Regions from separate parts of the Homo sapiens genome. Here all the other regions are linked to region 3. Evidence: fine-mapped expression QTL. A gene starts in region 3. Each other region holds a variant in brackets. All regions are shown on one strand. Distances are between the middles of the regions.

Region 1 (7,497 bases), 220 kb before region 3:
CAGAATTTGTTCTAAGAAATGTGAATTACCCCCATTGGGGTGGTTGGAGTGAGGGTGGAGGGAAGAAGTGCTTGAATTTTTCCCAAGGAAAAAAAGCTTCTAAAGTGTTTCTGGGTTGCTGCCTGCAGCCACTATAGTAACATTTCAACACAAAAGCATCCCTAAAGTCACTCGGTATGTGTACTGTAAACTTAAAAAAGCCCTTTTAACATTAAAAAATAATGTACAAATATAGTACCTTTTTAATTAAATAGGATGCAGCTGGCACTGGCGGTAGCATTTTTATGTCAATTAATTAAAATTGAAATGTGTAACCAGACACTGGCTTTTTTAAGTGCTGCTGAAACAAACACACATATTTTACACTTACAAATAAATGGACAGTGGTGTGCTTCAAGCTACCACACACAAACAATAAATAGTATCAATTACTACTTCCTTCTTACTTAAGTAATAGAAAAGTGGCTTATTTATCTAAGCATACTTGGTATACGGCCTTTAGAAGGCAAAGTGTTTTGCTTTCCCATCCATTTTTATTAGAAGGAGTCAGGATGAATTCCAAGGGAGACTCCCAGGCAGGAAGCACAGGTCCAGCTGCCCCACACGCTGTCCTGCAATGCTGGGTGGCCTACAAAGGTGGGTTTGAGAAGGACCAGAGAACAAGGGGGCCGTTAGGGTTTGAAGGCAAATCTCTGCTAAATTCTGCTTGGGTGGGTGGAGGATTCCAATGAAGGGACCCTGACTTTTCGGGGAGGAGAGCAGGGATTGGCCTGGTGGTGTCATTAGATGATCCTTGTTTGGATTAAGGATTTGCACTTGGAAATCTGCCATGTGACTGCCAGGAGTGGTCAAAGTGCATGCCACAGAAGGACTCTAGCTCAAATTCATACACACTAGTAGACACCAAACTCCACAGCCCCTTGCCCTCCTTGGCCCTCCATTGTAAGAAATACAAATGTCAAAGGCTGTCTGTAGGTCCCCGTGGGCCATATGTCCTCTCAGCTCAGCTACCTGCTGGAACCTGCTGCCTTTTCAGAGGACCTACTCCCAAAGGACAGTGATGTCATTCTGCTCCTCTAAATGCAAATTCTGTGGAAAGCTGCCAGTGGGGCCTTGGGTAAGGCAGATTGGGGTTCCCCTGTTGTGTTGTTTGGTAAGGCTGGTTGGTTAAGAATCTCTGGTGCAATTTTGCTCTCCTGTACTAGGTGTCTCATAATTGAACCCTCTATCCACATGTGCGGCTTTTAGCTGACTATGTCTTTGCTATGAAGCCTGGCGATTTAGAGTTTTGCTTAACTATGAAACCACAGAACATTTTTCTGTAGTTCAATGATTTACTTGTGCTTGTCTTTTTAATATGACAAGAGTCATAATTACCCCAAAGAAATTAGAAAACCACATCACTCCAGCATTTCATGCTGATAAAGGGCTAAAGGTTGTTTTTTAAATCCCTAATTACCGCTTTAGAAGGCAAAGCTGTGTTAGAGGCATTCAAAGATCTGAAAGAACTAAACATAACATTTCCTTCATACATCACAAAAACAATCTATATCTAAAATATTTGGAGATGGAAGTATTTTTTAAAATCACATTGTGCCTGGATGAACTGAAATTGCTTAGCAATATTTCAGATATGGCTCTAGACCACTGAAGAAATTTGTTATTTAATAAAGAGCACTTTTAGAGACCGAAGTCAACATATCAATACACTAAGAAATGTTTCAAGGGTCCAAATGTCATTAAATAATTATAAATATATCTTTAAAGTTATATGACCATTCACGTTAGCAAGTTACCTCAGATTTTACACATATTCATAATTTAAAAAAAAAGAAAACAACACATAGCCAAACGCAATCACTATCTATACCATTATGGCTATAATAATGTATTGCCATTTTCAGTTTTGCATAAAAGGAGAAGGCAGGTTTTAGGGATGGGATTTCTTTTTGGTTCAGTGGGAAAAGGGGAGAAGGAGTGTTAAAAAGTAAAATAAAATAATCTATCCTGATCAGTTATTTTTGAAGTCACTTTCTTGGAGCAGGAAAAAAAAA[A/C]AAAAAAACGAACCCAACAGTTCAGATGAGGACCTGCAGCATGTCTGAAAGCAGAAATTGGAAGAGTTATTCTGAATGATGGTACTGTGATGGAAGCATCCATTCTACCTCATGTCCCTTTAGTGCACCTCAACTGGTTTTGTGAGCTGTCTGCGGAGGGCACTGGTCCATACACAGCTGCCACCGTGAGGGTGTGAAGTTTCAAAGCACAGAGAGGAAGCGGCTTTGCTCTTCTCCCTCCTGAACCTGGAGTCCACCTCTCTGAATTGGCATATGAACAGGTTATTGATGATAACAGACCAAACAACAAAAACAAAAATACCTTTTCCCTTCTTTGTTCCTTTGTAAAAGTACATCTTAAATAGTAAACAATCTGAAGCTCGATTGCAATTGTCTCTCTTGAGCCTTCTGCTTCTCAATATCTACCCTCTTATGGCTGCAAGATCATGACTGAGTGAGTGAATGAAAAATCTTCTAAAAAATAGGCACTTTGTAGATAGCTAATCGATATACATATATATGCACTCTCTCTATATATGTATATATTGATACGTGTGGGATGTGGCCCCCAGATACCACTGGGCCACTGCTGAGGAATTTCAATATGGTCGCCAAACAGATTCATCCATTCTGCCACTAGAATTCAAAACAGTTGGGGAACTGCTGTGGCTTCCATCAGCGTCAACACCATCATTCTGGTTAGGCAAATTTGGATTTAATAGCGTGCTGCCATTCGAGGTGGTGGTGCATGGCGGAAGCATTCTGGAAGGAGACCGGTCTCCCCCCGGCACCATGGGAAACTGATAGGATCCTGACGAAGTGCCATAGTAGAGATATGGAGTGCTGCTGGTCTGGAAGGGTCCACTCTGGCTTTGGGAAGAGCCGGGGTAGGGTGGTGGCAGGTAGGTGTGGTAGTGAGTGGTGGCGGACATACCGAGGGACATGCCTGAGGTGACTGGCGGGGTGTAAGTAAAGGTGGCTGGATAGTGCATTCGTGGGTTGGAGAAGCGGCTCTCAGTGAGGGATGAAATGCTTGGGAACTGCCTGGGGTCTGAAAAAGGGCCCAGTTCTGAAGCACCTAAAAATTATAACAGAAGATGGAGGGAAAAATCTGTAAATATCAATTAAAATAATGATAGAATTGTTACAAGAAAAAAAAAGAGAAAACTTTAGCTTTCCCATAAAGGAACAGCAAGCCACAGACAGACCTTCAAATGCACCAGTCACTTTACAGTCTTTTTCCCCCACTTTGCAGTCTTAACAGCATTGATCCTTAAGTTCTTCACCCCCAGAGAATCCCAGAGGGCTTTAAAAACCCACATGTGTGCCAGGTCAATGTGTAAACCAACCCAACACTCTGATCACATAGGTTCACTCACCAGACTTTAAAACCAAATCCTCATGGATTTTTTTTCTCTTTTTGCTTCTCGTTGCACTTTAGATATTTGAAGTGAAATTTTTACTAAGTCAGACAAGTTTATTTTCCTCAACTCAATATAAAGAAATTCCAAAATAATGTCTTACTGTTATTTACTCTTGGTAGGCTCTTTCATCAATGAAGGAACATCAAAAAGATATCCTATCATGTTCCTATCATTTCCTTTAAGGCCTTTAAAGAATTTAAAATCTTGTCAGAGGTCTCATCTTAGCAACAGTGAAATCAAACCAGAAACTCATAACTTCTCTGGGGGTGGATAGGGAGGGTCATAAGCTACTAGATCAGTCGGTTTTGAAAATGGGAGTTAGGAGGCACAAGGGGGCTTGGTACCTTAGGAATCATTGATTTCAAGTCTTGATGGGAGACTTGTGACCTGATTTAGACCAGGTGCTAACAGTAGCTTTTGCGAGAGGCTCGCTGCCTAGGGGAGATTAAGAGGAGGGCACTCCCCACCCGTCTCCCAGGCCCCAGCACCACATCCTACAGAACCAGCTTCAGGTCAACTTGAAGCAGTAACCTGAAGGCAAAGATGGTTTTCCCCTAAAACATGAAGTCCTTTCACTTCTAAAGCTAACAGTAGGCCTCCTTAATAGATGTTTCTGGTGCCTAAGTTATGAAACCACCGTTATAAACCATTTCATGTGGAAATTTGTTTTCTGAAATGCTAGAATCTTGTAGTTGTGACCTTTAAAGATTGGGTTTATTATTATTTTTCTAGAATTGACAGAATTGTGACAAGCCCTTTTCTAATACCAGTGCTCTTGTTAAGATATTGTTCCCTTCTAAAATATTTTGATTATTCAGATCTCATATATTTGTTTCTCCTACAGCTTTTAGCTATAAAGGAAAGCACTAAACAATTCTTGAGGACTTTAATGAATGGGTACTTCTTCACCTCATTTTTATTCAGACCTTGTTCTTGGATATTACGATGTTTATTAAGGGAATAATCCGAACACTTTTCTTTAAAGGTGCTGATTGAAGGTTATTAATTTTTGTTAAAATGCACACTGCTTATAATCTTCACAAAATGCAAGGGTTAAGTGCCATGATGTGCATTTGTAATAAAAAGTGACTCTTTAAAAGCAACATATAGTTAACAAAACTCACAAATCGGACAGTAACAACCAGACAGCCCAGCCCAGCCCAGCCCTGCCCAGCCCAGCAATTGTTAAAAGTCTCACCTGCCTGGCTCTTCTTACTGAGAGTGGAAGGCCAGAGGCAGAAGTCAGAGGTGGCAGTGTCATCATCTGTAAAATGAGGGGGATGAGCTCTAAGTTCCCTTCCAGCTCTAATGTTCTATGACTATGAATTCCAAGAGAGAAGGAGAAGCAACAGCCTTAGGGGAGGGGTAGACAGAGAGGTTCCCATCCCTCATTAGTATTTCCCAGAGTCTGCAGGCCCATAAGCAGAGGGTAAAAGCTAGTGAGCAGCTTCTAAGGCCAGAAGCAAACACTTTCAAGATGAAGAACCAAAACTGACAGCCCAGGCAGTCACTCTCTGCTTTTTATAAATTCTTCCATCCTCAACTAGCCTCTACCTATTCCTCCCAAAAACGAAATTCTGACAAGCTTAAATTTAAAAATGTGGAAACAGCGATTATGACAGAATCAGAAATGGGAGCAGATGCTCCATAACATTTCCCCCGCCCAGTGCTTGTGCCCTGCCTCGTACAATACAGAGGCCAAATGGAGGCCACAGACGTTCCTCAGGCAGCCTCTGCATTGCAGGGCATCCAGGTGACCTTGAGCTGGCAGAACTAACAGCGATGGGCAGGGCACTTCTGTATGCATTAAGTTCAATATTTAGATCATATAAGAAGAACCAGAATAATGTGAACAGCGTGTATCAGAAAGAAGTCGCACTTAAAACGCCAACGTGTGCCCCCTGCAGAAGTATGGAGTTCACACAGATAGACATGTTAATGTAAAAACTGCTTCTTAGGTGTATCTGTACTTAAAATACACTGCAGTAATAATTACAATTCCGTATGGTTTCACTTATTTTGATGCAGAAGCCTCATTAAAACTCTTTATGTGGGGCCCTGGCAGTAAACTCCAATATGGTTTTGAATTTACCCCTCCCCACTCCTTCCTCTCAATTTTACCTGATACATTTTGCTGATGTTTTTATTGCCCATCACATGCCAGGATCACTGTACCTTTTTGGTTTATAGATGCTAGCTAACACAAAATGACATTTGTTTTTCAATTAATGAGCTCTGGTTATGGTTTATAGAAAACAATGCAACAAATTTCCGCTAGGTTTACAGTATTTTAACCAATCACTTCTAGGCATTTGAGTCTTAATGTCTTGAGAATGGACTCTTTCTTGATAAAGAGCGCTAATGTTGACTTGAAAGGGATTATAGGATGATTTTTCAACTTACAAACAATAGAATTTTCTGGAATTTGCTTAGTCACTTTATGTTACCAAGAAATGTTCCTGAAACATTTTGCAACATGTTCTCTAGGAAGAAATAGTAACAATTTGCTCTAGTACCATACGAGATCCCTTATAAAATAATCATGATAAGGTGGTGGGAGAAATCCTAAACTTAAAAGAAAGACTATAAACTCCTTCCTAATCTTCAAATTTTTAAATAATAATAGTTACAGAAGCAAATAATATCCTTAAATTTTCTTTCATTGAATAAGGTTGTGTCTGTGCTTCCAATGTCTGTTTTGTACATGAACTCAGGTTTTCTTTTAGAACCCCTGCTTGGGCTATTTTGACATTGTATCCTAAACTAGTCATCCTTGTGTCACCAACCACATTGTAGCCACAAACTTACCAACATAGAACTAACTGGATGTTACATCAACTAAAGTAAGCAAAATATAAGTTTGACTTATTAAGAGTCCATATTATGAAGGCCTAGAGTTCTAAAAGCAGTGCAACCCCAATCTGATTTTCTAAATATAAAACCAAAGCTCAGCCACTCCCCCAGTGATATGCCTGGTACGCTCAGAGCTCCCAAGAGCCAGTTTAAAACTCATGACTACAACTTACTGGATAGATAAAGCCAAAGGTGGTTTGGGGACCTTTTTAAAATAGCAAGGAACAACTTGCACAAGTCCATTCTTTTTGCTGTTATCCATGTTATCTCCTCCATATACAAAGTACATTCGGCTATTAGGCTTTGCTGAACAGTGGAGAAGTTGAGAGTGCTATAGCCAACACTAGATCACTTGGTGCGAAGAGTTTCAAAATGGTATGTGCCTACATCTTCCTGGGGGACTGCCAGGAGTTACTAGAAGCCCAAGATAATCATCGTGCATTTTCCTGATGGGTTGGTTTTACTCAACTTGGGGAAAATAATACACTATACAATAAACATGAATATGATGTGGAGGAGAGTGCAACATTTATGTGAATTTTTAGATAAATAAAAAATGACTTCAACAAAATTTTGCTCTTGTAAAGCTTTAGGCTATGATCCGAGATCCCCCAAGGTACTCAAATACTCCTTTATGCTGGTTGAGGAACTCTGATGGAAAAGTCTAAACTCTTAATTTGCTGCTTAGGTAATGCAAATCTAACCCCTGTTTGACAAATAGGAAAGCTGGTATCTAGAGAAAAGAAGCCATTTACTCAATATCACAAAATCACAGCCACAGCTAGACAGACCTCTTTGACTTCTAACAAAGGATATGCTATCTTAGTTACCCTTAAGGAATTTGGTTAACATGATCACAGGTCTATCTACATACACATACACACCTGCTATCTTAGAAGTTGATTTGCCTAAATGAAAAATACTCAAAATATCTCAAAATACTTAAATTGACTCTTCTACTGCCTAAGTGTTGCCCCAGTGAGAGTTCCTATCTTTGGGATATTATTAATAACTCTTTTAGGCCTTGTTGATCTAATCTGCTAAATAATGGGCAATTAGTTTGGTTGCTCAGGGCAACATGTGAATGAGACCAAGGTCAAGGGTATGATCCCCTTAGGACCTGCTGGCTTCCTACAGATGCATTTCATTCCAAAACTGCTGTCTAC
Region 2 (7,567 bases), 110 kb before region 3:
GGCCAAGAACAGGGAGGAAAAAAATAATCCAGCACAGAATCCAGGTTATAGGATTCAGCTGTCGCTCAAAGCAGACCCATGCTTCTCTCCAGACACTGACTTCGTCAAGTCACCCTATGATGTCAGGAAAATGACCCCGCATTTTCACCGATATTTTCAGTTAATAAGAAATGTTACTCAGGCTTATCTAGGGCAGGTGGCCTACCACTTGCAGATCTGTATCTGCTTCCACCGCCCACCCTGGGCACCACACAAAGCTTGAACTCAGGTCCCACGTATACCACCTGGCCCCTCTACTCCTAACTCTCACTGCTTTCAGAGCACTTCTCTGCCTTTACAAGGCAATTCTCTGCCTTTATAAATTAGTCTATTGACTAATTTGGACAAAAACCTCTCTGAAATAAGGTACTGCTATGCACACTTGAAACAGAAGTGACTTTTCCAAAGCTACCCTGCCTTCTCACTTATTGTCATATCGTTCAGAACAGGGAGCACCTATCCTTCCCTCTTTCCTCTCCCAGCCATCAACTTTTGAGCATCAACTCTTGTGTGTATGTACACATATACACACACAAACATACACACACACATACACACACACACACACGCACACAAACACACGCAAATGGTTTTTCCAAGAACTGAGAAAAGCAGCTGAGATCAGCAGGAAATATCTTTAAGAGATAAGTATTAGCGGTGCTACATTTTAAAAACCAACTATCCTGCTATGTGCATTACTAAAATGGACGTCCTGCCTTTTCAGGAATTCCGGGGCTAGTCTGACCAAAAGTTAGAAGACATCTTCCATCATAAGGCATCATCCCCAACTTATGGCTATCCAGAAAAGGCAGGCAAAGCCCCAAACCAGGCAAAGCTCTGTTCTATTCACCTGCACTCCATAACCACTAGCCCTTAGGACTAGAGACTTGGTGCTTACACACATGTGTACAGCAATCACCTAACAGGACATTCCCAAACTGAACAGACAGGGCCAGCACTGACTCAACATTATGAACCTGGAAGAATGCCACACACATGAAAGGAGAAGAAAACAAAAACCTCAAAGACTTGCTTTTGAGGCAGGAAACCTCCCTAGTTCAGGCAAGCAGTCAGCCTTTGTGAAAAGAGACAGCAGCAAAAGGGACGGGACCCACCATATGCTCCCACTGCTAGGAAGGTATGCTGCTTGGGTAGAGGCAAAACTTTATGAGACCTTTTCTCTCATTTTAGGGGAAGAAAAGATATGCCACTCTCATGGTCTATGCAGGTTGATTGTTATAGAACAAGTACTTCTGCCAGCTATGCCTCCACCACAAACCAAACTGACCTCCCTAAATGCAGTGGTTAGGATTCCAATGTATTCACTCAGCAAAGGCAGAGTTCTATATGATGTTTCCATTGGCACACAATTGTTAATGGTTTATATATCAAATAATCTTTAATCTCTAAATATATTCAAATACCGCTATGCTGAGTTTGTTCAAAGCAGTTTTTTGGTGGGGGTGGGGGAAGCAAACCTCGGTCATTTTAGATTTAGAAGGAACATACATATTGGCCCAAGTAGATTATGTGCGCTACCTGAAACTGATTGCCGGTGAAACCTTCTGGATGTCCAGACAGACAAATAAACCAAGATGGATTTAAACGTGGTTTGACTCTATCTGTTAAAAGAAAACTACCTATAACAATTACTAGAGCATGACCAAACAACAGTGTTGTAACAATCAAGCAAGTTATCATTTGCAAATAAATTCTTTGTAATTAAGCAGTGTGCTCTTCATAAAGGGAATTGAGTGGGCGAGTTAAAAAGCTAAAACACATTCTTAGGCCATGGGAAACACATGCCAGTGCTTTTTGACTAAGCTCAAGATTTTTAAGTTTGCTCTTTTCTTCCTCAGCTCTCATGGGTCTATTCTGCCCCATTATGTTCAGTACATGAGCAAAATTTCTTAGCAAATAGTTAACAGTGACTGAATAATTATTCACTCATTTCCCAAAGCTACGGAGGCCTTAGTGATTGTGTGGCAAAGGTTAAAACCGTAGTTTTATTTTCTACTAACTCTGAAGTTTGACTAACTCTCCCTCACTAAAAAAAATATATGCAGATAGCAAAGTCCACAAAGACACTATGGACATGAAAGTGACACTAACTCATTTGGAATAAATTCCTCATAGGGTCTCTGGAAACTCTATTACTTTCTTCAATAAAAAGGGGAGTACTTACTTCTGGGTTCCCGAGGTCCATCTACTGTAACTTTAATTGCTCTGTGATAGGTAGCTACTTGGGGAGGATTTGTGAAGACGGTTATGGTCAAGGTGAAACTCTTGCCTGCAGATATAAAAGGGGAAAATATACAGTGAATATTAAAAAACAGTGTTGATGATTACACAGCAGCATAGATTTCCAAATTGCATTTAAGCATCTCTAAGGAGGCAATGAAACAAAGACAAGAGGCAGGACTCCTTCTTCTAAATTGGAAACCCTCCGATGACCACTTTAGGACATTTCCAAATTTGCTTAGAGTCAAGATCATCGTCCTCATTGTAGTGCTACACAGGAAGACTCCAATTCCAAAAAAGCTCCTCAGTAGCAACAGTTGTAATGAAAACAAAACCCTGGTCCACTTGAGGAAGGTTCTTTTTCTTTCAGTTTTCTCCAACATCAGGAACACATCCAAGCACAGACAATTTTAGAAGTCTTTATTTAGGGTTGGGTCATGACCTCACGAGAGAACAATAGTAAATCATTGTTGATTATGTTATTTACTTCACATAGCTTTAGCATTTCATTTGCTTAGCTGCACTACAATAAGAAGATAAAAGAGGAAAGTTCTTATGGGAATCATTTTAACAGGAGCCAGTGTCTCCTGTCCTGGCCGTAATGTGCCTGTGGTATGATGATTTCATCATTACTGGAACAAAGTTTTTCTCCTCCCTGTCCACCCCTCCCCTAACATACATCCTTGCTGTTAAATCTTGAAATAACCCCCTGACAGCGACTTACTTTTTGCTAAATGAACATGACATCTCTCAGTATAAACTCAAATTTTGCTTTTAGCAGAAGGTGTGCTTCATTGAAATATTACATCTGATGCTTCAAATTAATGAGCTAAAAGCGACGAATAAGAAGGGGAAAAGAGACAGGGAAAAGTTTGGTAGCATATTTGGATGTCTGTTTTCTCCAGAAGAAGATACCATTCTCTGTTGCACAGACTTACTAACAGTTGTAATCAGTTAGATTTGCAACGGTTAATCATGTCAGATAGTCAAAACTGCAAACTGTTACAAGACAGGAAGAGGTGGGCGTGAAACAGTGACTCAATAAAACATTCAGCAATCTCAGGCCAGAGTACTCATTCAGTCTGCTCCTGTAACAGACCTTTAAAAAGCTCATTTTGTTTTGCTTTGTTTTTTGGTCAGAGATTCTTTTTCCCTTACTGAAAACTGAGAGTATTAAACCAAAACACAAATCTTTGACAATATG[T/C]ACCAATGCAAAGTTTAATGCAGTCTTTTCAAAGCTTAATATGGAACAGGTTATATACAAGGCTTAATGGAGAACAGGTCTTTGGCTGTCAAGTCTAGTGAATGGGTTTTCTTTTCAACCTAGACCATGTAAGTTCCTAAAATCTGTTTAAGACGCACATCATTTGTTACTGAGTATAAATAGTTTTAAGTCTCCTTGGCTATACTTTTCTATAGCCAAGGGGAAAAAAACAGGAAAGAAAAGACAGGAATGGGGTGGGTGCAGTTTGAATAGGGAAAGGTGAATAACAATTAGAAACGTATTAAGTGCCACTTCATACACATTATCTCAATTAATCCTCCCCGCTTAGATCTCTCACCCCCATTGCACAAATAAGGAGGCTGAAGCCTCAAGAGACTTAGTAATTTACCCAAGTTCATACAACTAATAAATGAAAAAATGAAGATCTGAACCTCATTTTTCAGACCCTAAAATTAATGCTCTTTTTTTTTTAAATATTCTGTCACTTGGCCACTTCCTTAAGTGGCTTGATCACTTGCCATTTAAAAAAATTAATAAGTAATTTATTTCTAGATGCGTCCCAATCAGCTCTATGTGCCCAAGAAACAGTAAACATAAATGGACTAATGCAATATCTCAGGATGATGAAAGCATCTATTTTTAAAGTGTCATTGATATATTTTATCCACTATATTGGCTATTACACGGATTTAAATAATTTATAATTGGTTAGCAAAGAGAGGCTTTATTATAAGCGTTAAGACTAACCAGAAGAATAAACCAGCCAGGAGTCTAAACTAGTTACAGAAAACTAAAAGCCTACAGAATTAGAAACCAGAAACTTGAATAGGAAGCCACTGGGTCCAAGTTAGAACCTCAAAACAATGGAAAGATCGCAAAAAGTAAAAGAGCTGAATCTCTAGATTGAAAGTTAATTTACACTAAAACATTTTAAAGTGCCATTTTGGGGTCAGATTAGTGGTCTATGGGCCCAGGATTGCCTTTCTAACAGTGGCTCCCATGGCTGTGTTTCAGAGTCAGTTTTCATCTATGGCACTCATCTTAATAAATCAAGGATATATACAGATCTCAGTTATCCTTAATGTCTCTAAATAACCTGGTAGAAAGATTGTCGGCTGGGCGCGGTGGCTCACGCCTGTAATCCCAACACTTTGGGAGGTGGAGGAGGGCAGATCGCCTGAGGTCAGGAGTTCAAGACTAGCCTGGCCAACCTGGTGAAACCCTGTCTCTACTAAAAATATAAAAATTAGCTGGGCGTGGTGACGCACGCCTGTAATCCCAGCTACTCAAGAGGCTGAGGCACAAGAATCACTTGAACTCAGGAGGCGGAGGTTATAGTGAGCCGAGATGGTGCCACCGCACTCCAGCCTGGGTGGCAGAGTGAGACTCCATCTCAAAAAAGAAAAAAAGATAAAATAGATTGTCCATAAATTTATTTAAACCAGTTTTGGTAACAGTTCTACTTGAGACCTTTACAACTTACTTAGGATATTAAAAGTCATCTATGCTTCCCCTAAATTCAGGGTGACGCCTCATGTAGGAACAAAAGCCAAAAATAAAATTCACCCTTCAAGTATAAAGCATTTAAATTTTCAGAGTAGAATGAGTTCTCTATAAAAAACTGCTTTTAAAAAGAGATGGGTTTGGGGGAGGAAACAAGTAGTTAAGTATAACTATGATCTGCCAAAATCAGACCCTAAGGATCAAGATGTAATTAACAACTACAGCAAAAGTGAATGAGGCTCCTTCTGCTTCTTATTGCCCCTTCAGAAGAAATATGTATGCAATGTTGAAGAAATTTTCAGAAATTACCAACCAATTTAGTAATTGGTTCTTCATCCTATAATAATAATGCACCTCTTAAGTCAAATGTTTATGTGGGCATTCATGATTTCCTTAAATTAATTTTTTCTCAAAAATCCCCTTTTTATCACTTTCCATAAGTGATAAAATACAGCCTGTTATTTTAAAATGTAGGCTCTCAAATAGGGAGCTAGCAGTCAGTAGATAACTAATTGTGTCATCCATGGCTTCATCAGGAAAAAGAAAGCATACCAAAAAAAAATTTAAGGACCAAAATCATTTTAAACACTTCTCTTTAAAAGATTAAGGATAAAAAAAAGGAAAAACCATGAAAAACCTTAAGCCTCTCCTAACTTAATGCAAGTTCCACTGATGCTCTACTTTTATTCTAGCACTTTCAAAAGTTGTGGTCATAAGATGACCCATAAAGTCAAAGTCAGTAGTGACATGACTCCTTTATAATCTAAGATTGTTTTTCAGTTTCTGAGAGTTTATGTTTCTACCAGTGGAAAGAAAAAAAAAAGTGCAATATTTGAGGAACTTGGTGTTTTTTTATAACACTACTGAAAATAGAAATATTTAAAGCCGGGAAAGAAAATACAATGGTAGCAGCATGTTGATCCAGACTTAATAGCTTAAGAGAAATGTAGAAGTGTGAAAATCAAAGAGGAAGCTGGAAGAGTCTGTTATAAAGCAGGTCAGGTACAAAGGGTACAAAGGCAGGTTAAAGGGTTTCCTGCCACTGAAAAACTGACCCATTTTTTTTTCAGAGTGTGATCTGTTATCAGTGTTCTCTGTCCTTTTTTCCTCTTCATCTCAGCTTGATATTACTGTTTCCTTTCATACAATGTTAATGCAGTGATATAAAAATATATTATTAGTGATAAATCAATTTTTCTTTCTCTCTCCACCCACTCCCCCTACCCCCCATCTAAGTCTTGAAGACAAGTCTGGACCAATTTCTCCATCCTGCCTCTGGCAGCAGACTGTAGCATTTCAGATCCTCCACCAAGTCCCGGCTGCTTCAAAGGAAAAATCCTACTTTCTTCAGTTAAGATCATAAGAAATATAGGGGGAGGGGGTCAGCTCTGTTTGGACATAATTACACTTCATCAAAAGAAGCTTTCTTCATCTTCCATGCGTGAAAAGTCTGCAAGCAGTTAAGTCTGTCTTTTTTTTTAAATATAAAAATTGCTATTTGGGAAACCAGCCAAAACTCAGAAAGCCAATATAGTAAAACAGTGCACACCCTTTGTTTCTCTTTGAAGTTTCTTAAATAAATATGTTGAGGGTTTACAAAGTACACTATCACTTTGCCATACTTTCTACTTAAATTGATCAGAAAAAAGTTATGCAGCATCTATATAATACAAAAGTAAGATAAATGAAAACACTAGTTTGAATCTGTAATGTAAAATTAAGCATGGCACCCAATCCTTTAAAAACTAAAATTCATTACTCTAGTTAAAAAAAAAAAGTATTATTACATAAGAAGAAAGATGCAATTCAGAGCATACAGGTAAATCATCATGTTCACATTTTTCTTGATTCTAACTAGAAAAAAAGGAAAACTTTAATTGCATAGTGGACCTGCATAAGTAAATGAGAAAAAGGAAGAATGAATACACACACACACATACTCCAAACCTAATCAGTCAATAGTGATATAGGATGTGTCTTTTTTTCTTCTTTTTATGAAAGTTAACTAAACCTGATGCAGAGATAACTCCCTTAGTTTTGATTCTACCGGAGGCTGTGAGCCTCATTTTATTTCAAACAACATGTCAGTGACAGTATCTCATTAGCATGAATCATTTTTTTTAAGTTAAAAAGTACAACTTCTTGGCCCTGTTCCTAGAAAGTAAACTAACACTACTCATCGGAAACAGCCTTGCTTGAATTTCCCTTATCAAGTTTTTACAATGGTAATAATTTGACATCTGATCCAAACTAAAGAGCAATTATTAGACATGGTTTAAAAAGTGGTGCTCCTCATTTCCTATTCAAACCTGGGTTGCAATGATTCCATAAGGCTTTATTTCACCTCAGTTCTAAAGTGGTCTATTTTCTTTCTTCTTATCAAAATACTTAAAATGGAAATATTAGATTCAGTTAAGTAAATAAATAAGCATAATGCTTCTAATAGTGAGTAACTAGTAAAAGTCTTTCTGTAGAATAAGTAAATAAAAGCCAAAATATTGGCCTCCTTAAAGACTTTTTTAAAAAACATTAACCTCATTTATCAAACAGTTACAAAAA
Region 3 (7,567 bases):
GAAGGATTTTTTTCACATTGAGTTGATGGCATTTGTCTATTTGGTCACATGTTTTTATATATTTTTAATAGATGCTATAGAGGTAGACTGTTTCGGTGAATCCTTCATATAAAATGTCTAAAGATTTTTGTTAGGTAATAGTATTTGCAGTTTTAATGCATTTAATGAGCTTTTGCATGACTTCACTATTGACTTAGAGTTGTCATATCTTAGTATCCTAGAACAAAGGTTAGAACAGTATGGAAGATTGGTATTTGTATGCTTTGGAGAGGGATTTGAGATGTTACCCTGTTTTGCCGTCAATTTTCAAGTATGCACGGGTGCATCATTAATCATGAGAAATGCAAAAATAAATAATATAGTCCCATTGGATTTTTTTCTATGAATACTTACCTTTTCCTTTTTTTTAAATATATATATACAGTTGAGGTATTTAGGTAACCCCTAACCTTTTGCTTCAACAAAGAAGTACAGTATAAAAATATTACCACAGTTTTCATGTGAGCAGCTCTTGAATCGGGGGGAGGGGGAAAGCCCTCTAGATGAATATTTGTTGAAAAAAAAAGTTGTGATACAGAATGTCTTAACTCAGCCTCAGTACAGTACTTGAGGACCACCAGTGTGTAAAATTGAAAGCACATGAATTTTGAAGCACTAGAAAAGGTTTGTAATTGATTAGCGCTGCTTTAAAGTATTGGAGTACAGTGAGTTTTGATTTGTGAATGGTTCTATTCAATAAATATTAATTCTGTGTGTTTGATAAAATCTTAGTGCCTTCAATGAGTTAGCTCCCCCCGCCCCTGCAGTTTATTTAACCATCAAATATTTCAGTGTTCTTTTAACAAACTGGAACATTTCTATCTTACCGAATTTAACTTTAGCATGACTGATTTAAACAAGTCAAACTATCAGTTGTTAGCTGGAAGAGAGTAATTGAATAAATTAATATTTTGTTCTTTTAAGATAACTAAAATATATCATAATGTAATCATGTATATTTCATGCCTTGTGATATAGAGACGGATTGATCAGGAGAGTCAGACAGACCAGCCAGATCTTTTTCCACAATTTCTTTTCAGTGTTTTAGATTTCAAAACATTTTTTAAAAATAAAAACTAAAAATCTTTAACAGTTTGTAATGTAAAATTAGGATTATTATAATTTAAAATAATTTATATGAGTCTTTGGGAATTACTTTGACATTTTTAGCTTTTGATATGTGTTAGAGTGATTTTCTGTGTTTGTTCTTAACTTTGTAATTCTGCTCCCTAGTTTTGGAATTTAGCTCTGTATTTTAAAAAGAAGCTATAAAACTTTGTCACTACTGAATCTTGAAACTATAAATATATTATTGATATGGACCACAATTGCTGTTTTGGAAATCAGTGTTCACACATCATGTTCAAGCAGTTACAAAGATTTTATGTAGATAATCAGTCAGCTGATATATTTTCATGAGTCATTAATTTTAAGATACTCTATGAGTCACATCTGTGATTTTCAGCAAGCTATATTTATGATAAATGATGGACAGATTTTGAGTAGTACAGATTGAAAATTTTTGATTAACTCAAAGTGAAGTATGCTGAGAGATCAAGGACACAGACATACTCTTTCTCTAGCATGTGCGCGCGCGCGCGCACACACACACACACACACACACCACTCATTGTATTTGAGGTGAAGCAGTTGTTAATGTGTGCTTTGTACCTCACCTAGGAAAATCCTAAACTTTCTTTTTAACTATTTTACAAAATTGGGGCACATACTTAAGACATTTCATTAGGTGGTGGTGATAATCATTATATAAAAATCTAAAGCCTGAAGTGAGGTTTTAGGCTTTGCATAGATTATAGAATGGGGAAATGTTTGCAATGTGATAACATATACATGATGTCCACTACTCACCTGTAATTAGTCTGAGGTAGTGGGTTGATGTTAAGTTCTCTATTCAGGCTTCAAGATACTGTTTGGGGGCTGGCGGGGAGGGAAGGTGCAGCCCACTTTTCAAAAGAGGAAGAACTGGTTGTAATGTTGGAAAAAAAAAAGGTTCACTACCATGCCTTGCTTAGAATCCTGTCAAGTTTTGGAAATTTTGAATAGTTATTAAGAATGTTACAGAAGTATAAGATCCCTGTTATGATAGAATAAGAAGCAGTTTAATATATTCTTTGTGAGAATTTTAACATATTCTTCATGATAACTTTACTTCTAATACTGAAGAATTTTTTGAAACTTGTGTTGTTCCTGATCTGGTTTTTAAAATGTGTTTAAAATAAATAGTTAAACAGAGTGATAACGTGAAAGAGTAACTTAACTGCCTCTGTTATCCCTCCCTGATATCTCTGTTATCCCTGTTTCAAGTTATCCCTCTGTGTAACAGTAGTTTTAACTATTCTTTTTCCTTTTATCTCTTGGGTAGTAGTAACAAAACTTTCGATGTATAAGCTGTAATTATGCTATGTGTTGTAATGTAGTCTAGCTGTGTTTATGTCCTGCTTCCTTAATATAGAAGTTTTTAGAGTAATACTTGGTACCCATCATTAAAATTTTAAATTAATCTGTGATTATTATATTGTATATATTATAACTGAGGGGGCCCACTTACAGCTATTGAGGGAGTCACTAAAGCAATTTTACATTTTTTTTTGTAAAATACAAAGTACATTTCCTCACCCTGTAAGAGAAACCATTTTTTCTCCCTTCAGGTTTAATTATTTCTGTTTGACCTAAACTGAGACTGATCCTCTAGTAGTATCCAGTTAAAATGTGTGAAGTAGGAGGAGTAAAGGAAACTCCAGTCATTAGTTGTAAGTTAAAAGCAGAGTTAATATAGATGTACACAGCAAGAAGGTTTATTTTAATGGATATAAGAAAAATTTTTGAAAACTTGCCTTGTAGTTGGAACATGTTGGAGATCATAAAGAGAATCTTGTAAGTGTGTTTAGATATTTTGCTATAATAACACATCAGCTGATGAATGTTAAAGTCATTTACATATCTGTATCAACAGTAACTTGAAATTAAATATTAAGGGACAAGATTATGCCTACTTCTTTTAAAGTCCAGCATGGTTTAATAGTTGTGGCTTTTAAAAATCATACAGGGTATCCTTATGGAGCTTTATTTTTCATGAGACTAAACAGCAGTTATTCATTTTGGTAGGTCCAAGAATGTGATTAAAAGAATCTTAGACGTTTCAGTGTTTCAGTGTGTTTATAACAAGGTCTATGGATAACAGTGTGTAGATGTAAAATTAAAATTACATAGAAAAATGCAGTTGCATGTAAGTTTTAAAATACTTCCATGAACTTTTTAATATCCTGGGCAACTATAAAGATCTTTTAAAAATGGCTGTGATGTGCTTATCATAATTTTATTTCAGCTGAATGTATACTTATATAAAGTTGTTTAGAAACAAACTTATTTAGATAGGATACAGTTTGAATTTATAAGTAGATTTCTTTTAGTTGAGCTGGTTAAAATGTTAACTGTACTACAGGTTTATTTCTGTGTTATACATGGTAGACCATAATGTTGAGATAATTCTGTGGTCTGTTATTTTGTAAAATTGCTTCCTTTTTGAAGTTTGCTCAAATATTGGGAGCTGCCGGAGTCAATAATTTATAATGCTTTGATTAATTTAGGATCTGACTTTTCTTCTGGTGAGGGTTAATGAGAGTATTAAACTGTTTCTTTTACTGTTTTCATATCCTCACCTCTATAACTCTAGAAAACATTTTGATCAATGTGAGATAATTTAATTTTGTATATTTCAAGTCATTACTTTGAAAATTAGATACATTACAGATACCAAATGCAAATATATACAGAAATTTCATTTTTCAATTCTTAATGCAACAAGATAGCATAATTAGGATCTTTAATATGCTATTTGGAAAAGCTAGCAGTTTATCAAAGAATCATACCTTTATGTTTAACAGGTTCATATCTTACAGGATTTTAAAAATGGTAACACTTACCCCAAAAGAAGTTTTGCTGACATGGTGTCACTGTGCTGAAGAGGCTGTTTGATGCCATAGTCCCTCCTTTTTTTTTCAGATAGAACTTGTACCCTCTGTTGTAAATACTGCTTGCAGCCTTAAACTGAAAATACAAACCATACCCAAACCTTGTTTTAGTTTTACAGTATGCCTGGAGTACATAGACTTTATATTTATTTTTTTCTGTCAAGAAATTATGTAGCTGGTAACATGTGAAAAGCAAAGAAACAAAACAAAAAGAGAATGAGCAAATATTTGAAGGACCTACTATTACTGCATAGACTGTGGTTAGAGAGCACTCACTGACTCTGTTGGTCTCGGTGGCTGGTAGTGACCTGCGGAGATTAACCATTTAAAAACCAGAGACTTCTTGCTGTCCTCCTGGAGAAAGTTTGCACCGCACTTGTGGTTCTGTGGTTGTTTGTGAGGCGAATGAAGCATTCACACAATCCAAAAAAGCAAAAGCTTTAAAACTCCTTTTTTTTGCAAGCACTATTACTGGAGAGGCAGAATCATGTGGTTTGTGACCTCACAGTACTCTTAAGTAAAGTGGGACTGCCTACCACTGTGGCTTTTCCCCCTTGCTCTTTCTCTCTCTCTCTTTCTCTCACAAAAGGCTTGTGGTAAGGCCTTTCCTGGCATCCAGAAGGATATAGCTTTTTAATTTTTGTGACTCATGAGGATTTGGATAGAATACAAATGCTGAAGGAGCCCAAACTCCTGTAAGGTTAAGCATTTGTAGAGCAGAGCTCTGCAGTTAAGGGCTTTCCTTTCTACTCCCCGCTCAACCTCTGCCTTTTTGCCTCCTCTTTTTAGTTCATTATTGTGTCTGTGGAAAAATGAACAAAATTGGCTCAAGAGTCTGTGTGAAATTCTGAACAACAGTGATGATATACAATAATTCACATCTTTGGACTGTATCACATTCTGGGGTCTGCTTCATATTTGCTGGGTGGCTGGATTCCTTCTGTTTTCCTTTTTCTTGTCTTCTTAAACTTGTGAATCTGTAACTCATTGTAAAAAAAAAAAAAGTTTACCTTAAGGTCTGGTTGCAAACTGCTTGCTAGGCTTGACTATAATTGGCTGTCATGAAAGTGTTAGTCTGGGCATTCTTTTACAAATTTTAAATCACGTCTGTCTAGTTTATTATCAATCTATTAGATGGCGGCCTTTACAATAAAGATTAAATGTAATGTTTCATGTATACCATTATCTCATGCCTAGTTTGAAGATCTTAAAAAAATGAATGACAGGGATTGTAATATAGTTTATTGGATGAATCTTAGTTTTCTTTATGATTGTAATATTTTTTGTCTTTCATTGAAGTGTATTCAGTTTATATAGTTCTTTAAGTAGTTTAGACATTAATAGAGTTTCTGATAGCAGATCTTCTATAAAGTAAAATGCTTATGTTATAATGTAGATTGTTCAGTATTTGATTCTATGAGCTTAGAATAGAGTGGGTTAACAGAAGCTATGTATTTTTTTGTTTCTAATGGAAGCTTTGAAATAAATTACAAAATGCTGTGTGTAGTAAGGAATAATGCCCACAGACAGAGTATGTTAGTCGTCTCGATTTGCTAATTCTGATTCAGAAGAAAATTGGAAACATCTTTGGGAAACTATCTCCTTTTTTGCCCCTTTGGACAAGTATGTATAGAACTCATTTTCTTATTAGGATGATTATATATCATAGGCAGTGAATTTTATATTTATGAATAGAGCTTCCTGTTTTCATCAGTTGGGAGCGATGGAGTATTTTTCAACCAAAATTATAAAGGCGAACAGACCAATTTTCTAGGCATTTTTTTGCCATTTATCCATGCCACTCTAAATCTGCATGTTAGACTTCTTCCTAGTGTGACAGTAACTAGGAGTGGCATAAAGTAAATGGGGTGGGCGGAGACAGTGAATTACAAAAGATTATTTGGAATGTGCAGGGAGGTAAGGGCTAGGGAGACAGGAGGGTGTTAGAACTAAAATATCCCTGTGTTCTTCCTAGTGCTATTCATTATCTGCTTTTGGTTCATATTAGATCACAATAACTGTACAAATATGTTCATAAGTTTCTTTACAGAAAATTTGATTTTCCCAAAATACACTGGTAGGGTATGGGAATGATTCTAGTCCTTTATTTTTCAAATGTCCAGAACCTTTTCAGAATAAACTTTTAGTGATAAAAAACCAGAAATACATTTTGGTGTTTTATTTTAACTATGGATTTATCATGCCTTATTGTATGTGTAAACAGATTTTACATTGAAAGGTAAAAGCGTTCATTTAACATGCAGTTATTCATGTGAAGGAGAGAAAAATTATTTTTTCTCTTTTATAAATAAGTCGTATCCATATTATCTGTATCTCTAATTAGTATCCAAAGTAAACAAAAGGAGGGTTTTGTCCTTATAGCTTGTGGGATTTCCAAACATGGTTTCATGTGTACCTATAATAGCAGAATCACTTAATTGAAAATATGTAGGTAGCTGCTGTAGTATGATCAGCAAATGGTTTTCTTCTTTTCAAATAAGCTTATAGTTTCTACATTAGCATTCACTGAAACATCTTACAAACCCAACATTTTGCTATTTTCTTCCTTAAAATCTTCTTTATGTAAACTTTGGCTCTTCAAATTGACCTGATAAGAATTTAAGTAATTTTTAACATCTATTTGTCATTTAATTACCTGTTCACTTTTTGCAGGTAATCCTCCTGCATGTAATTTTTGGACCAGGATTTGAGAGTTTAGTAGATATTGTTATATATGCACTTTTTGTCCTCTGTGAGGCCTATCAAATTCTAGCAGGAGAAAGATAGTGAAATCATGTGCTTTAAGTTAGTATATTCATTATCCACATGAATTTTTTTCCTAAAACGAAAATATATCCTCTTTGGAGCAAATATTACTTTGTTGTAAAAATTTAAAAAACAATGACAACTGGGGCACATTTGATAATTGGTACACATTTGATAACAGTGTGTTTCATTAGAAATAGCTTACTACACGTGGTGAAGAGATACTGATTTAGAAAAGTCAATGCAAATAAAGCTCTTGATTATAGATTTATACCATGGTTATAATCAGAAATTGAAAACCACAGATTTATTTTTATTTTTATTTTTGCTTTTTAAAGACCCATAAAATTTTATCCTCTCTGGGGACATGTTAGTATTTGCTGTTTTGAAGTAAGCAACAAGTTTAGGTATACTGTATAAATCACATACTTTAATGCCATGGAAATGAAATACAGTTTTGATCTTGAAATCAATTTCAAAGAAAAAAAGTTGTTGGTATCTTGCTTCTCCATTGCTTTGTAGTGAATAAAATGTGTTAGAATTGGTTGAACTTTTGAAAATACCAAGGTATTTGTGTTTAAATGCTATGTGTGTCTTCATTGTAACCATTTGAGTAATTTTTTATTTTCTTAACTAATGATCATATTTTAATACATTAGTTTTACTTTATCAATATTGTGCTCATTTCTATGCATTTTTTTAAGGATTATTTTAGACTTATTTGCTGCTAACTCTATTCTTTTATTTGCTGCTCATTCTTTGAAAAACAA
Region 4 (7,567 bases), 250 kb before region 3:
CTGATAATGATAGAAAGCTTCCTTTTAAAATAAACATTTCAATAAAAACAAATCAACTTCAATACAAATGTTAAAGAAATAATAGAGCAGGTGGATACAGCAAACATCTTAACTGTGGCATCCAAATGACTGAAGTTTGGGAAACAATGACAGAACAGCCCCCATGCCACTGCTTTTGGCCTCCAGTTAGAGATGAGAGGCTCCAAAAGCCATGCTTTGAGCCTCATTCTAACTATCTCTAACATCACTGTCCTTTCCTAATATGTCCCATCAACAGAAATATGCCTTTGCTTCCAAGCCACTCCAAAGAGACCACTGCACTTCAGCCATTTCCTCCTTCGTGTACCAGTGCTGTACATTTCACCCCCTGCACTCCAGGCTGAGGGATATGGCCCAGTCCCCTGACAGGATCAAGTTGCTTCTTGAGTCTTCTTAGAAACACAACTATACCCTGTTTCTAGGTGTGGTCTACTTTTGCACATAGCTAACCCCACTCACAGGGTATCAATTCCAACTACTTCCTTCCTCAGGCAGCAATTTTGGCACCTTTTTTGTACCCACTCATGTTCCAACCACACACCCGAGATGAATGAGCATCTCATCAAGTTGGGGAGGCCAAAGCCACTGAAGGATTCTGTTTCTACTGTAGCTCTCATTACTGTTTCTCACATTAGAGCACATGTCACTCTGGGAATGCATCGCTGGATTAAAGAGTATTCTTTCACATAGTCATAATTATGGGTCCTAGAAGTCAGTGAACTAGGGAGTCCAGGGGATATGGATGAGAATAAAAGATGAGAATCATAGAATTTAGATGTACAAGTTCCCTAAAACTACACAGTCCCACTCTTCTGCTTTACCCATGAGGGGAATGAAGCTGGGAGAGGTTAGTTGACCTGCCCAAGGTCACATGCATCCCAGTCAGAAAACTACCATGTTCCCCTTTGGGCTTCTGAACCCAATTTGACCCTGGACCTCACTAAAAATTCTCTCCATGTCTTCTTTCTTCAATGGATAATTTAAAATAGAAATAATAATAAATATAACACCTCATTGTATATGTGTAGCACCTTTCTTCCAATAAGTGGTGTTCTTTCAGCTTGCCCACCCATGCTGCACAGAACGGAAGTGTTTCCACTATGGACTCTGGTGTTGGTTATTGACTGGAGCCCAACTTCTAGCCCACACACATACCACTATCAAAGATATAGCTCAGAGTACAGGCCCATGTCTGTTATTATTAACTACTCAAGGGGTAGTGTTTAAAAACAAAAGACCCTCCCCAACATAATACACATGAAAAATATGTTTAGAAAGCTTAAATCTTAACTATTTTAAAAATTAACTATTTTTGTTTTAATTGGATAGTTATTTGATTCTCCATGGAAGAACAGGCTCTTTTGTGTTGTTAGTAATAGGTTGTACTAATATTGATAGTAGAATAGTGGCAGCAGTAATAGTAACAATCATCATTTATTAAATGTCTACATGGAAGGCATTTATATCCAGTCTTTTATTTAATCCTCACAAAAATCTTAATGATATGTGTTTTTTCACCTTACTGAGGAAATAAATGAAAGTTCAGAGACATAATTTACCCAATATGCAAAAAAGTGAGGTCTTACCTTTTTGACAATAGAGTAGACATGATTTTAAGAAAAATCCCTCACTATACTAGGAAAAATATAAAAAAAATTTTAAATGTATGACAGATCTATCTAGAAAGTAATTCCTTGGGCCCCATGAATGATCAGAATGCCCAAATCCAGAGTCATCATCAAGTGATGGAGTCAGCATTTCCTGCACATGAGAGAAAAAAATCTGAAGCTCAAGGTGAGTGAAATATCAGAATGGAGACCCACAAATAAGCCAATATCATGGAAAGGCAACACTCCATTGACGGAGCTAAAAAAACATCTATCCCACAGAACAAGGTGGAGATACATGACTGGCTTGGTCTTGACTCTGAGTAGAAAAAAAAAAAAAAAACAAAGAAAGAAAAAGAAAAAGTTCCCCCTCCCTATTTCTAACTACAGATGTGTAGGTTTATAACTTTGGGCCTGAATATACACAACAAATGTGGCTAAAATAAAACTCTACAAAGTTAAATTGATTCCAAGTTGGTGATAAATGGAGCCTCAAAGAATTACTACATATTATTAAGTTACAAAGAAAATGAGCTCTGTAGAAAAAAAATCAGTAATAAAAAGTAAATAAACAACTCTGAGTGAAAGTCAGCAGAAACAATAAACTCTACAATCAGACCTTCAAAGACCACAGATACTGGAATTATTCAAATATAGAATATACAATTAGTATGTTTAATAGGTTTATAAATATGAGAGGAGATTGAAACTATGTGAAAGGTAAAAGAGACTATCAAAATTAGCCACATTTGAAAAGTACCAAACAGAAATTTAGAAATTAAAAATGTAATAAATGAAATAATTTAAATAAATAGGGTAAACATTAAAATCAATGAACTTTAATACTGAAGAGATTACACAGAATCTAGTAGTAAAAAAAGCAATGAGAAATGTGAAAAATGGTGAGAAAATGTAAAGAATAATTTGAGAATGTTTTATAGGAAGCAATAAAGAGAATGGGGAGAAGCAATATTAAAAGAGATAATAGCTAAGAATTGTCCAGAGTTAATGAAAGACACCAGTGCACAAATTGAGAAAGCCTAGAGAATACCGAAGAAATCCCTGCCTAGATATACCATAGTGAAGCTGCAGAACAACAAAGACAAAGAGACCTTAAAAGCAATCAGAGAGAACAGGTAGATTGTCTGAAAAAGAATGATCAGGTCATAGCTGAGCTCTCAAGACCAGCAGGGAAAATTGAATGACTTCAGATCAACCAACTAATGTCAAATAGCTATCTAGAATTCTAAACAAAGAAAGCTATCTTTCCTTTAAAAAAAAAAAAAAAGAGGGATGGTCAAAGAAACACAATTTCAAACTATCACAAATTGAGAGACTTTATTAACAGAATATTGTCATTGTAGAAACATCTAAAGGACATTCATTTTAGAAAGAAATCATCCCAGAAGGTAGATCTGCATTGCAAGTGAGTCAATGACAAAGATAAAAGTAAACATGTGGATAAATCTAAACAAACACTTATATGTACCAAACAACAATGTCTAATTTATGAATCTTTAAAAATCAAGAGATAATTAAAATCTGGATAACTTCATGTAAAATTTAGAGATGAATACTTAGATTTCAAGAGTTCTTTGTTTCTTGTATTGTTCAGAAAAAGCTTATATTAATTAGCTTTCAATTAAATTATGTTAAAGTTGCATATTAAAATTTTTAGGGTGGAATAGAGGGGAAAAATGGAATTCAGAGTTGAGTGAATAAAACCAATCAATCCAAAACAAGGAAGCAAAGGAGAAAAAA[A/GAAA]AAACATATAGAAAAAAAGGTAAATATTACTATAAAGTACAAAATAAGATGGTAGAAATGAATCTAAACAGTTTGGCTATTACAAATGATATAAATGGCCTAAACTCTCCACTTAAAAGAATGACAATCAGACAAGCGCCTGACCTGGAGGGAGTTGTTAGTCCAAGTTGAGAAGTGGGGAAAAGGTTCAAAAGGTAACCCAAGCAGCACCAAGTCACATAGTGCTTTCAAAGTTTAGCTGAGGCCTTTGACTTCAAAGCTGTGCTGTTGAAGCATGGAGCAGGAGATTGCTGCTTTTCATTGTAAGACTTCTTATTATTGTTTGAATGAACTTTCATTTAGCATATTGATGAATTACAAGGATAAAATATTTAAAGTTAACAAAGAAGAAAAAATAGGGAACAATTCTTTGGTTTGAATATATATATTTTTATATATGCACACACACACACACATACTGTTATGCATTGTTTAACAATGTGGATATGTTCTAACAAATGCATCATTAGGTGATTTCTTCATTGTGTGAACATCATAGAGTGTACTTACACAAACCTAGATGGACTAGCCTACTACACATCTAAGCTATATGGCATAGCCTATTGCTCCTAGGCTACAGACATATATGGCATGTTATTGTACTAAATACTACAGGAAATTATAGCATAAAGGTAAGTATTTGTGTATCTAAACATAGAAAAGATAATGTGTTGCACTATGACGTTATCATGGCTAAGACCTCACTAGGTGATAGAAATTCTTTAGCTCCATTGTAACCTTAGGGGACCACTGTTGTATATGCAGTTCTTCATTGACTAAAACATCATTTTGCAGTGCATGACTGTGTGTGTGTGTGTGTGTATGTGTGTGTGTGTGTATATATATATATATGTATGTATGTATGCATATATATGAGATAGTTTCCTTTATATATTTATGTATTGTTTGAATTTGGGACAATAAGTAAGTTTACTTTTTTACAATTAACAACAACAACAAAAAACTCGGGCTGTGGTGACTCACGCCTATAATCTCAACACTGGTGAGAGGATTGCTTGAGGCCAGGAGTTCAAAACCATCCTGGGCAACATAGCAAAACCTATTGGTGTGGTGGTGCATGCCCATAATCTCAGCTTCTTAGGAGGCTGAGGCGGGAGGATCACTTGAGCCCAAGAGTTTAAGTCTGCAGTGAGCTGTAATCACACCAATGTACTGCAGCCTAAGACACAGAGTGAGACCCTGTCTTAAAAAAAAAAAAAAATCTTAAAAATAGGCAATGGGATACTGTAGATTTTTTAGTCAGGAAGGGCTTGAGAATAAAATATTATGTGGGAAGTAGAGAACAAGATGGATTTAGAGATCAAGAGACAAAAACTAGAACCAGAGAAACAAATCAAAACAACTAAAATAATTGTCTGGGACAGTGTCATAAATGCAAGATAGAAGGAATGGATAAATCTAAAAGAAGCAACAGAACTTCTTCACTATTCTTGTTCTTGCAGGTCAGTCATAGGAAGAACAATTGAGTGAAACTGAAGGAAGAGGCAAAAGTGACTTAATGATGATAACAGTGCCTGCTCTACTCTGCTTCTGCAGAAGACTCACTTACTGGACATTCTGGAGCATTCATACAGAATAGTGAACCCCTCCCCGATATCTTCCATATCTTCCCTTGCTAGGCATAACAGAGGATGAAGCACCACTACGGTCTTGAGAGCCTCCTAAAACACAAGTCAATTTGATTAGAATGAAAAAAAATCCTCTTTTGCATGTCCTCCAAGGACCCTCCCTAATTCCAGTCCACAACATTAGAGGCTCTGGACCTTCAGATAAATTGTTGGAAGGGATGGAGAAGTACTCCAACCATGCCATGGGTTCTCGAATGGGGCTGCCAAGTGTACCCTCTGTGCCCTAGACCAGGAACTTCCTGGAGTCACATTGTCCAGTGGTTAGATACAAGATCTTAAGCAACCAAAAGGCAAGGAATCAGTTACCTGGAAATGGAGGCAACTTTATAATCATTTTCACAACCTGTAGAATGGTATCCAAACTGGCCATTCCCTAGGCCTTCTAGAGCTCCACTTGTGTGGCCTACGTAAGTCACTTAGCCTCTCTGAGATTTAGTTTCCTCATCTGTAAAATGGGGATGGCAGTAACAGACTTCTAAAGGTTTGTTGGGTGGCTTCAATGGGATGATAATATAGAAATTACCTGGCACAGTGATTGGCCAATCTAATAATTCAATACTTATTTTTAAAAATTAATTTTGTAAAAAGTGAAGATAAAGAAAACCCTTCCATTTCTGTAGAAATGCTAGTGGAAATGTAAAGGAAAGAAGAGAGAGAGAAAAAATAGAGGAGAAGTAGAATCAATAGGACTGAAGAGAGGGGATGAAAGAAATGGAATCTTCAGGAATTAGAATGTTAAAGCCTGGCCTATTATGGAAATTACTTTATCAGTGATCAAAATAAAGATGTCAGAAGGGAAAGACTTGTCTCTGCAGTGAAGCTGTAAGATCTTGAAGGCAAGAAATGTGCTCCCTTGTGCTCACTGCATTGAGCATAGGTCAAACATTTTAGTTCTAAAAAACAAAATATTTGCTGCATAAATAATGAATAATGAATATGTGCTGCATAAATCATTGAAGAGTGGATGAACAAGTGGGAGAAAGGGAAAAGGAGAAAGAAAAAGAGATGGGAGAGAAAGGGAAGGAAAGAGAGAGAACAAACCATAATGTGACGCAGGTACTGTCTCCTGGAGCTGGGAAAGCAGCTCCTCCACATGGAGGAGGCCACCACTGTGGCGTCTTCCACCCCTTTGGTCTCTTCTCAAGCAAGATGGGATTCTGAACCTTGAGGCTACCTGCATATTATCAACCAGAATCCTTTACGAGTAGCCAGCACTGTTCTTGAGCTTCTTCTGTGCTCCTTCATAGCATTTCCCAAGGTCTGAGCTCTGAGAAACAACCAGAGAGCTAGAAGTGTGCCTAAAGAAATGCGGCCTTCACTGGCTTTGCTGGTTACAGGTACTCAGACACGACCAGCCCTGAAGCTTTTGTGCCTGCGCTGCTCCAGACTTAGCTTCCACAGGAAGCCCGTCCGTTCCCATGGCATTAGCCGACTTCCACTCTACTCTCACTGGTAAGGACAGTGGTAGTTAATAACCTTGTATACAGAGTCAGGAAATGGAAGGAGTTATTTATTTTCCCTGAAGACAGTTTGTTCTTTTGATAAACTACAGTTTTATATAATTTTATTAATGCCAATAGTAAATTGTGTTTTCTCATGACTAAGCTTCCTCCTCCCACCCTCCCAACCCCCTTTAGACTTTGGCTATAAATAGAAAGCTCTTTGTTCTGTCTCCTCTGGGCAATAATTACAAACATAAACTGGGGAGAAGCCCTCATGTCTTTCCACATCTCTTGGTTATTTCTCCACAAGTAGGCAGTCACACAAACAAACAGCCTGCTCTGTTTGTGTTTTCTCTGCAGTCACAATTCTTCCACTGAATGTTTATGCATTCCAGCATCTCGAGAACTTCAGGACCGAGATAGATGGTATCTTAATATGCGTTTGAACATGTGCACTTAATGTGCTTGGTTAATTGGAGTAATTAGTAGTCTTTTCATTCCAAGGCCGTTGCTGAAATTAAAACGGGGCTGTTATTTCTTTTAATGGACTAACTGAAGAATTATTATTTTGAAAGTGAATCAAGACTGAAGGATGCGAAGTTCTGTGCTCCAAAAGAGGAGGAAGGGACTGGAATTCTAAGGATCTGAACATCTTTGGGGAAAGTTCCCAGCCTCATTTACTCCCTCCAGATATCACAATACCCAGGGTGATATAATTTATTACCCAACCCAGGACACTTTTGAGAATAAAATGGGGCCTGTTTACTGATTTCATCGGGATAACTGTCCTAAACAGAGTGTTCCAGCAAACCGGAGTATGAGCACTCTACCAACACTTCACGTGGGTATAGCTGTATACACAGGGGACTAGCCATTTGATACCATCTGTTTCTCACACACATCCATGAGGGAAGAATCATTCCCATTTAACAGACAATGTAACTGGGGCTGAATATAGCTCAGCGACTTGCCCCAGGCCCACCAGGAAGTGGATAAAGCCGTGCTCAACCCAGCACTTCTTCAAAGCCTT

The links. PIP is the estimated chance that this variant, and not a neighbour inherited with it, causes the effect. A credible set is the group of variants that fine-mapping cannot tell apart.
Region 1: its variant is the best candidate, but not a certain one, in a credible set for the expression of RUNX2 in whole blood (INTERVAL, PIP 0.74).
Region 2: its variant is the best candidate, but not a certain one, in a credible set for the expression of RUNX2 in whole blood (INTERVAL, PIP 0.73).
Region 4: its variant is the best candidate, but not a certain one, in a credible set for the expression of RUNX2 in whole blood (INTERVAL, PIP 0.73).

The regions. Positions count from the first base shown.
Region 1 is chr6:45,542,462-45,549,958 of GRCh38, reverse strand. RUNX2 (RUNX family transcription factor 2) reads right to left here. Exons shown (of 9, transcript NM_001024630.4): 8 at 4,677-4,742; 9 at 1-3,132. The coding sequence ends at 2,654. Among named protein-coding and RNA genes, the nearest start is that of RUNX2-AS1, 31 kb to the left of the region's middle. The variant A/C (reference allele first, on the strand shown) is at 2,055.
Region 2 is chr6:45,432,709-45,440,275 of GRCh38, reverse strand. It overlaps RUNX2 (RUNX family transcription factor 2), which reads right to left. Exons shown (of 9, transcript NM_001024630.4): 5 at 2,225-2,329. Among named protein-coding and RNA genes, the nearest start is that of SUPT3H, 59 kb to the right of the region's middle. The variant T/C (reference allele first, on the strand shown) is at 3,485.
Region 3 is chr6:45,325,201-45,332,767 of GRCh38, reverse strand. RUNX2 (RUNX family transcription factor 2) reads right to left here and starts at 4,438. Exons shown (of 9, transcript NM_001024630.4): 1 at 4,308-4,438; 2 at 3,984-4,107. The coding sequence starts at 4,041. All of the region lies in intron 2 of SUPT3H (SPT3 homolog, SAGA and STAGA complex component), which reads left to right. RefSeq lists an enhancer at 4,669-4,709, a promoter at 4,116-4,756 and a cis regulatory region at 5,714-5,720.
Region 4 is chr6:45,577,252-45,584,818 of GRCh38, reverse strand. No RefSeq gene overlaps it. Among named protein-coding and RNA genes, the nearest start is that of RUNX2-AS1, 4.2 kb to the right of the region's middle. The variant A/GAAA (reference allele first, on the strand shown) is at 3,408.